Homo sapiens: one gene and its partner. The protein of the gene in region 1 interacts with the protein of each later gene in a pairwise test. Each region holds a gene or a part of one and is shown on either strand. Other genes may lie near its edges.

Region 1 (3,752 bases):
GTATACACTTTCAATTATAAGATGAGTAAGTTCTAGGGACCTAACTCACAGCATGGTGAAGACAGTTAATAATAATGTATTGCTTACTTGAAATTTGCTAAGAGAATAGATCTTACATGTTCTCACAGCACATACACACAAACGCAAAGGGTAACTGTGTGGTGATGGATATATTGATTAATATGATTGTAGTAATCATTACACAATGTATATGTATATGAAAGCATCATATAGTACACCTTGAATCTACACAATTTTTATTTGTTAATTGTACCTCAATAAAGCTGGAAAAAAGATTCACATTCTCTGAGAAATTTTATTTAATCCCTTCAAACTGAGAGACTGTCCTCTATGCTGTGGGTAACTCTATTTTAGTTCCCATGTAAATGTGTTTATTTGTCTCCCCTCCTGATCTTTATCTTTGCATTTCCAACATTTAGCACACTGCCTTGATGCAAAGTCGAGGCTCAGCATAGGAGAGGCTCAACATAGTACAGGTTGAAGGAATGGTTGAATTAATTAACTGATAGCTTAAAGCCCTCCACTTGTATTTTTTAAAATAATATTCCTAAATATATTTTGTTCTCTTGCCAGGGTTAAAACTCATATGTTACTTCTCTACCCACTTGCACAGACTTTAAGGTCTTTTTAAATCCCATCTGTGTGTTTCTTCGTCAGCTGGAAACATTTAATGTCTTCTTAACTTGGAAATCTCCTGTGAGCTTTCTTCTGGAGCATTTAAAAAAAGATTATAAATAAGTATCAATCCTTGAGGAGCTGAATTCTTTATACTTCTCCATCCAAAGAAATCCCTGATTAACTTTACTGTTTAATGCCTATTTTGACTTTATGTAAAATTTTAGGGTAAATGGACAAACAAGAACCTTTGAACCTATGGTATCATCAGTTAAAATAAAACAACTACAAACACCACTACCACAACATACATTTAGGAGGTGACAGTCATTAATTTCTCTTTTATCTGTGTGCCTATTTACTACATTAAGTTTATCATGCTTGATGTCCTTTGGGAGAAATGGTCATGCCTTGTCAGTTTTCCTTACATAAACTCTGCCACCTGCCCCTTTGCCCCTGTCCACTGCTGTAACGTTATATTTGTTATGTTCACTGATCTAGTCCTTTTTCGCAGGCGTCAAGGACTTGCTATTTGGGCTCATGGATTCTGTAATTGCCTTGGGCAGAGATGACAAAGCATAGGCTCCAAATTCAAAATACATTTGTATTTTTAACATTTCAAAGTCCCCATGGCATTAAAGTTACTACAATTTACCATCAGATTACACATTGCTACCATTAGAGCAAAAGAAATAATTTTAACTTTAGCTTCTTGATTATAATCTATGTTCAAGTTTTTCACCTTTCAGAAACAAACTAAACCTTGACACTGTCCTTCTAAATAAAGAAGCATAATGTATAGGTCACTTCAGAGAGAATTATGTATTAAGTTGTGATTGTACAGTAATATCAGAGAATTTGCCTTACCTTTTTCTAAATATTTATACTTTTAATTATTACTCATCTGAGGAGCTGTGCATCCTTTCTAAACATTAAACTATTTATCCTCTAAGTTACACTGATGACTGTAGGTAGAGCTTGTACAACGTTGTGGGAAATACAAAAATCACTAAGATTATCAGTACAGAAACAGTACACCAAGTTTGACAGATGTAAGGAATAAAACAATTCCGTATTCTTTCTACACCTTTTCTCTATTTTCCACTTATATTCCATTTCTGATGTGCTATGTACTCAATCTTGTGAGAGGGTCGGCAGAAGTATCATTATCCCATTTTTACAGATAGAAAGACAGACACCGAAAGAGATGAGTTACCTAGCTCACAGTGCTAATGACAGAACTAAAACTAAAACCCAGACCACATATACAAGGGGGAAATCGTAGCAAGCCAAGAAAACCATAGTGTCTTTTCTTGGGTGATTAGTGACTATGAACAGTGGGTTGATAGCTACTTCTAACTGTCCTCCCTACATTTTGTAACGAAGTTAATCTCTCCAAAGCCTGAGTGAAGTAGCAGACAGTGTTTATTTTCAGAAGGGAAGGAACTAAAAATATAGTAGCACAAGCCATTTATTAACCTCATGCAACATTATTCCCAGAGTAGCAGAGTCTTGTGAAAAGGCATAAGGTTAGCAATCAGTAGACTTAGGTTTAGATCTCTGTTCCTTTACTAGTTTCTATCTCCTTGCACCAAACACCTGTTTAGTTAAAATAGGACTAATAATAGCAGCCTCATTCCCTCAAAGACTATTGTCATGATCAGTAAGATACTGTATAGAAGCACTTTATAAGCTACATGATATTATACAAATACAAGTCCTCATTCTGTGTAGCAAATAAGAAATTTTTCCACTTTGGGAGGCCGAGGCGGGCGGATCACAAGGTCAGAAGATCGAGACCATCCTGGCTAGCATGATGAAACCCCGTCCCTATTAAAAATACAAAAAATTAGCTGGGTGTGGTGGTGGGTGCCTGTAGTCTCAGCTACTCAGGAGGCCGAGGCAGGAGAACTGCATAAACCCAGGAGGCGGAGCTTGCAGTGAGCCTAGATCGCGCCACTGTACTCCAGCCTCGGCGACAGAGCGCGACTCTGTCATAAAAAAAGAAAAAAGAAAAAAATTTTTCCTATGTAGGAAATAATGTCACATAGTTTTTAGGATAAGGGCTTGGAAGTTATACTGACGTGGGTTACAATACAAGAAATACCACCATCTAGCTCTGCCACTTGGCTAAGAAACTTAGTCTCTTGAAACCTTAGTGTTTTGAGTTTTAAAATGGGAATAATCACATCTCTCATGAGTTTTTATAAAGATTATATGAAATGTTGTATATGAAGTGAATGAACTATTGTAAATGTCCCTTGAATTAGTTTTTTTTAACTTAAGCTTTTATTTGGGAGTAATTTTAGATTTACAGAAAAGTTGCAAAGGTGGTACAGAGAGTTCCCATTTACCTTTTTTCCAGTTTTCTCCATTGTTAATGCTGTATCTTACATTTGCCACTACAAAGAAATGGATACTGATGCATTGCTATTAACTATTAATAATGGTTATTTGGATTTCAGCAGTTTTTCATGAATGTTTTTTCTGTTCCAGGATCTAATCCTCAGTACCACACTGCATTTAGTTATGTCTCCCCAATCTTCTCTGTTCTGTGACAGCTTGTCAGTCCATCTCCTGTTTTCCATGATGTTAATGGTCTTGAGGAATACTGCCCAGGTGTCATTTAGGATGTTCACCAATCTCATTTTGTTTGTTGCTTTTCTCATGATTAGACTGGAATTATGGGTTCCTGGAGGGAATACCACAGAAATGGCATACTTTTCCTGTCACAGTATATCAAGGGGTACATGATATCCATGTGATATCACTGATTATGTTAAATTTCATCACTTGGTTAAGGTAGGGCTTGCCAGATTTTTTTCTTGTATATTGAGCTAGTTCTGATCGCCTATCACTTAGACAGGGCATTCTCTTTCCTCTCTTCTCTCTGATGTAATGCTATTCATTTACATTTACTGCAAATTGTCATCTCTGAAGAAATACCTTCTCGGACCATTCAGCCTAAAGCAGCTTTTCCTTTCAAGTCAATCTCTATGACACTTCACTTTTGTGTTTTCTTCATAGCATTTATTGTCACCTGAAATCATCTCGTATATTTGTTCATCTAGTTCATTGTTTGTCTGTAGGCCCTTTCCCCCCAAAAGAAAGAAGAA
Region 2 (3,752 bases), on another chromosome or scaffold:
TGTCCACCTGTAGGTACAAAAGTAAAAGACTGAAAATATTTACTAAATCAAAGAGATTTTTGCCCTAGGAAGGTTAACTAATAAGAGACTTTTTTTCCTAGGGTTTAAAAAATGTTAAATCACATTTTATGACAGTCAATTTTATATCCTAATGGAATCTCTTCTGGTAGTGAGAGAAGTTCCAGATTTTTCGTTGTAAAAATAGTCATATAATGGTCTAATATCCAGTTCTGTCACATTTTCTCATTACCTATCCCTCACAGGACTTTCCCTCAAGTCCCTACCTGTCCCCTCTGCCCCACACTCTGGCCCGGAGCCAGAGGATTGGCTCTGGGGCAGCAGGAACCTGTTGTTTTAGGAGATGGTGACCTTCGAGGATGTGGCTGTGCACTTCACCAAGACAGAATGGACTGGCCTTTCTCCTGCCCAGAGGGCCCTGTACAGAAGTGTGATGTTGGAGAATTTTGGGAACCTGACTGCTTTGGGTAAGGCCATTTTCCTCCTAGGACTCAGATCTGTACTTTTCCAGTTTCCTTCCTTCTTTTACAGCCTGGGGGGAGGAGTGTGGAGTGGAGAGGAGAGGTTGTCTCTTGTGTCCTCCACTGAGTGACTGCAGAGCTGAGGCTCAGTGACCAACTTCAAAGATTGCTGGGTAGGGAGAGGTCTTGGGTCACTTTGGTCTCCCAATGAAGGGAATTACTGTCCCCTGGTAAGAGTATGTTCCATCTTCCAAGAGGCTCTGCACAGTAAGGAATAAGTAGTAGTTGTTGTCTGGGGAAGGGCATGTCCCCTTCCCTGTGTTTGCTCATGCCTTGTGGATCTCACTGACTTACTTATCCTTGAGTGTTTTTTTTAGGAAGAAGTCACAAATGCTCAGTTTCCTGTTGATCGGAATCTCTTTGGCCTTCTCCAGTCGAGAACCCTCTTCTGTGGGTCTTATTCTTACTGAGACTCCTGGGGTTTTCCTTCTTTTGACACAGCAGATACAGGGCTGAAAAGTACCATTTTCTTCCTGTTTTCAGGGTACCCAGTTCCCAAACCTGCACTGATCTCACTTTTGGAGAGAGGGGACATGGCTTGGGGCCTGGAAGCACAGGATGATCCCCCAGCAGAGAGGACCAAAAACGTCTGTAAAGGTAGGTGAGGCAGATTTAGAACCAACAATTGTAGCGTTTTATGGAGCACTGTATTTTAAAATGAATCATGCTGGGCAGGATTTAAATAAAATAGATGATTTCACCTAATAGGTAAAATATGAAACGTTTCTCACCAATCTTAACTCTTACCAACATGTAATCACTCAGTACGTCTCATCTGCAATCCTTGAATCCATTGTTCCTTTCTGAGTTTCAACATTGCCTACCTTAGTTGTCCTCCTTGGTTGGGATGGATTTATTCAGGAGCAGTTTTTGAGCAACTTGCCATGTGCTGAACGTTGTTTAAGAAGTTCTGGCAGGTACAAGTTATGGAGACAGATGTAAAAAGCGAAAAAGAAAAGTATTAAGTGCTGTTGGGAGTGGGACGGAGAATGTGAAGGTAAAATGGGCCAGATCTTCCCAAAAGTTGGCCATAAATGGGGAGAGCTGAGTCAGATAACACTAGGAAGTCATGGCATGGGAGGAGCTTTTTGAATTCATAGGAATTCAGAGCTGAGCACAGGGCGTGAGGTGCCTTTAGAATAGGCAAGTGGATGGCTAGAGCAGGCCATTGAGAAGGTGGGTGGAGAGTCTGAGATAAAAGGCAGGTCTGAAACAGTACTCTAACACAGCTGGGTTGAAACGATCCCCAGGAAGAAAAAATGAAGGCTGAATCTTAACCATTAAGGGATATTTAATTTCAGTGAGAGAAGGAAGAGAAAGTAGACAGTCAAATAGATGGGGGCCACCAAGAGCAAACAGTGAAATTGAAGGCAGAGGCAGGAGTTTCAGTGCAGGTGGTTTGCAGAGAGCAAATACGTGGAAAATAATGAAGCTAGCACAGCACTTCAGCCTCTTATTCTAAGAATCTGAAAAAGAATCATCAAGACAATTGAGAACCTGTTGGTTTGTTCTCACACGCTTCCTCTGTCTGGTGATTATTCTTTTTCAGACTCTTGGTTACCTTGTTTACTTCAATCTCAGATTACTCTCCTCTGAACATTCTCCTTCGGAGTTCCCTTACTCCTTTAACTCACACTCATAGGATGAACTTGATTAACCATCACATGAGTCCCAGGTAACCCACATTAATGTTAAAACCAAGCCCATCATTTCATATAAAATGGATTGACTTTAACTCATTTAAAATGTCATCCAATCTTTTGGAACACAAATGCCATTTTATGGGCTGTTTGTCTCCTTTTTGCTGATAGGAGAAAGAATACTCTCAGTCTGGGTGTGTCTAAGTAAACTGTTCATCCCTTTTCAAATAGAGAGTCTAGGACAGTAGTTTCTCTGCATGTTTGAGGTTCAGCAGTTTTAGGGCGTTTCCTCATCGTCTATAGTCCATGTGTGGTTCTGCAGTTAAGAACCTCTGAACTAGGTAATCTTACAACATATTGGGAATAATACTCTCTAAGCACTTCTGTGATTTTCTTTCTCTCTGTCTTGCCACAACCCAGTGTCTGTAATGTTCAGTGTCTTAAGTCTTTTGGGACATCTGCAGGGTATGAGTTTTTAAAAAGAACAACAATTCATCCTTTGCCTTTGCTTTCTGATACTGTTCTGTTTCACTTTCTGATTCTAAGTCTTGCCAGCCCCGATGTCACTACTTGTTCTTAAGACCTGTGCCTTCTTTGGCATTTTGTAGGCTGTAAGTAGCATCAATTCAAAAGATACTAGCTCATGCCAGGGATGACCAGACATCATTCAAATATTAGAGTAGAAAAGCTTAGGAAGCAGTCTCGTGTGTTGTGTCCACTGATACCCTGTTCCACCTCAATGTTCTCTGCCTGTGTGATATTTGGCACTTTCACTTTAACAGCCTTTTCTTCCCAGCATGCTGATGTGAAAGTTGAAATGATCTCTTTTAAAGCCTTATCATTTTCAATGCTCTATTATTTCTAGTATAGTTCTCAGGTGGCATTATTTGTGTTTTCTATCTCTTATGTCAGATGTTGAGACCAACATTGACAGTGAGTCCACATTAATCCAGGGAATTTCTGAAGAAAGAGATGGGATGATGTCACATGGTCAGCTGAAGAGTGTCCCTCAGAGAACTGACTTCCCAGAAACACGTAATGTGGAAAAGCACCAGGACATCCCCACAGTGAAAAATATCCAAGGAAAGGTTCCAAGAATCCCCTGTGCAAGGAAACCTTTCATATGTGAGGAGTGTGGGAAATCCTTCAGCTACTTTTCTTACTATGCTAGACACCAGAGAATCCACACTGGGGAGAAACCTTTTGAGTGTAGTGAGTGTGGAAAAGCCTTTAATGGTAATTCTTCGTTAATTCGGCACCAGAGGATTCACACTGGAGAGAGACCCTATCAGTGTGAGGAGTGTGGGCGAGCCTTTAATGATAATGCAAATCTGATCAGGCATCAGAGAATCCACAGTGGGGACAGACCCTATTACTGTACAGAGTGTGGGAATAGTTTCACGAGTAGTTCCGAGTTTGTTATACATCAGAGAATCCACACTGGGGAGAAACCCTATGAGTGTAATGAGTGTGGCAAAGCTTTTGTTGGTAATTCACCCCTACTTCGGCATCAGAAAATCCACACTGGAGAGAAACCCTATGAGTGTAATGAGTGTGGCAAAAGCTTTGGAAG

Evidence for each region. Proteins that work in one complex are often made in the same cells at the same time.
Region 2: the proteins of CTNNA3 (region 1) and ZNF19 interact in binary tests that used the Homo sapiens proteins (3 or more experiments, as listed by UniProt).

The regions. Positions count from the first base shown.
Region 1 is NC_000010.11:67,220,475-67,224,226, reverse strand, and holds part of CTNNA3 (catenin alpha-3), read left to right. Parts: intron 1-3,752. UniProt on the Homo sapiens protein: May be involved in formation of stretch-resistant cell-cell adhesion complexes.
Region 2 is NC_000016.10:71,475,612-71,479,363, reverse strand, and holds part of ZNF19 (zinc finger protein 19), read left to right. Parts: intron 1-358; coding exon 359-485; intron 486-1,022; coding exon 1,023-1,136; intron 1,137-3,091; coding exon 3,092-3,752. UniProt on the Homo sapiens protein: May be involved in transcriptional regulation.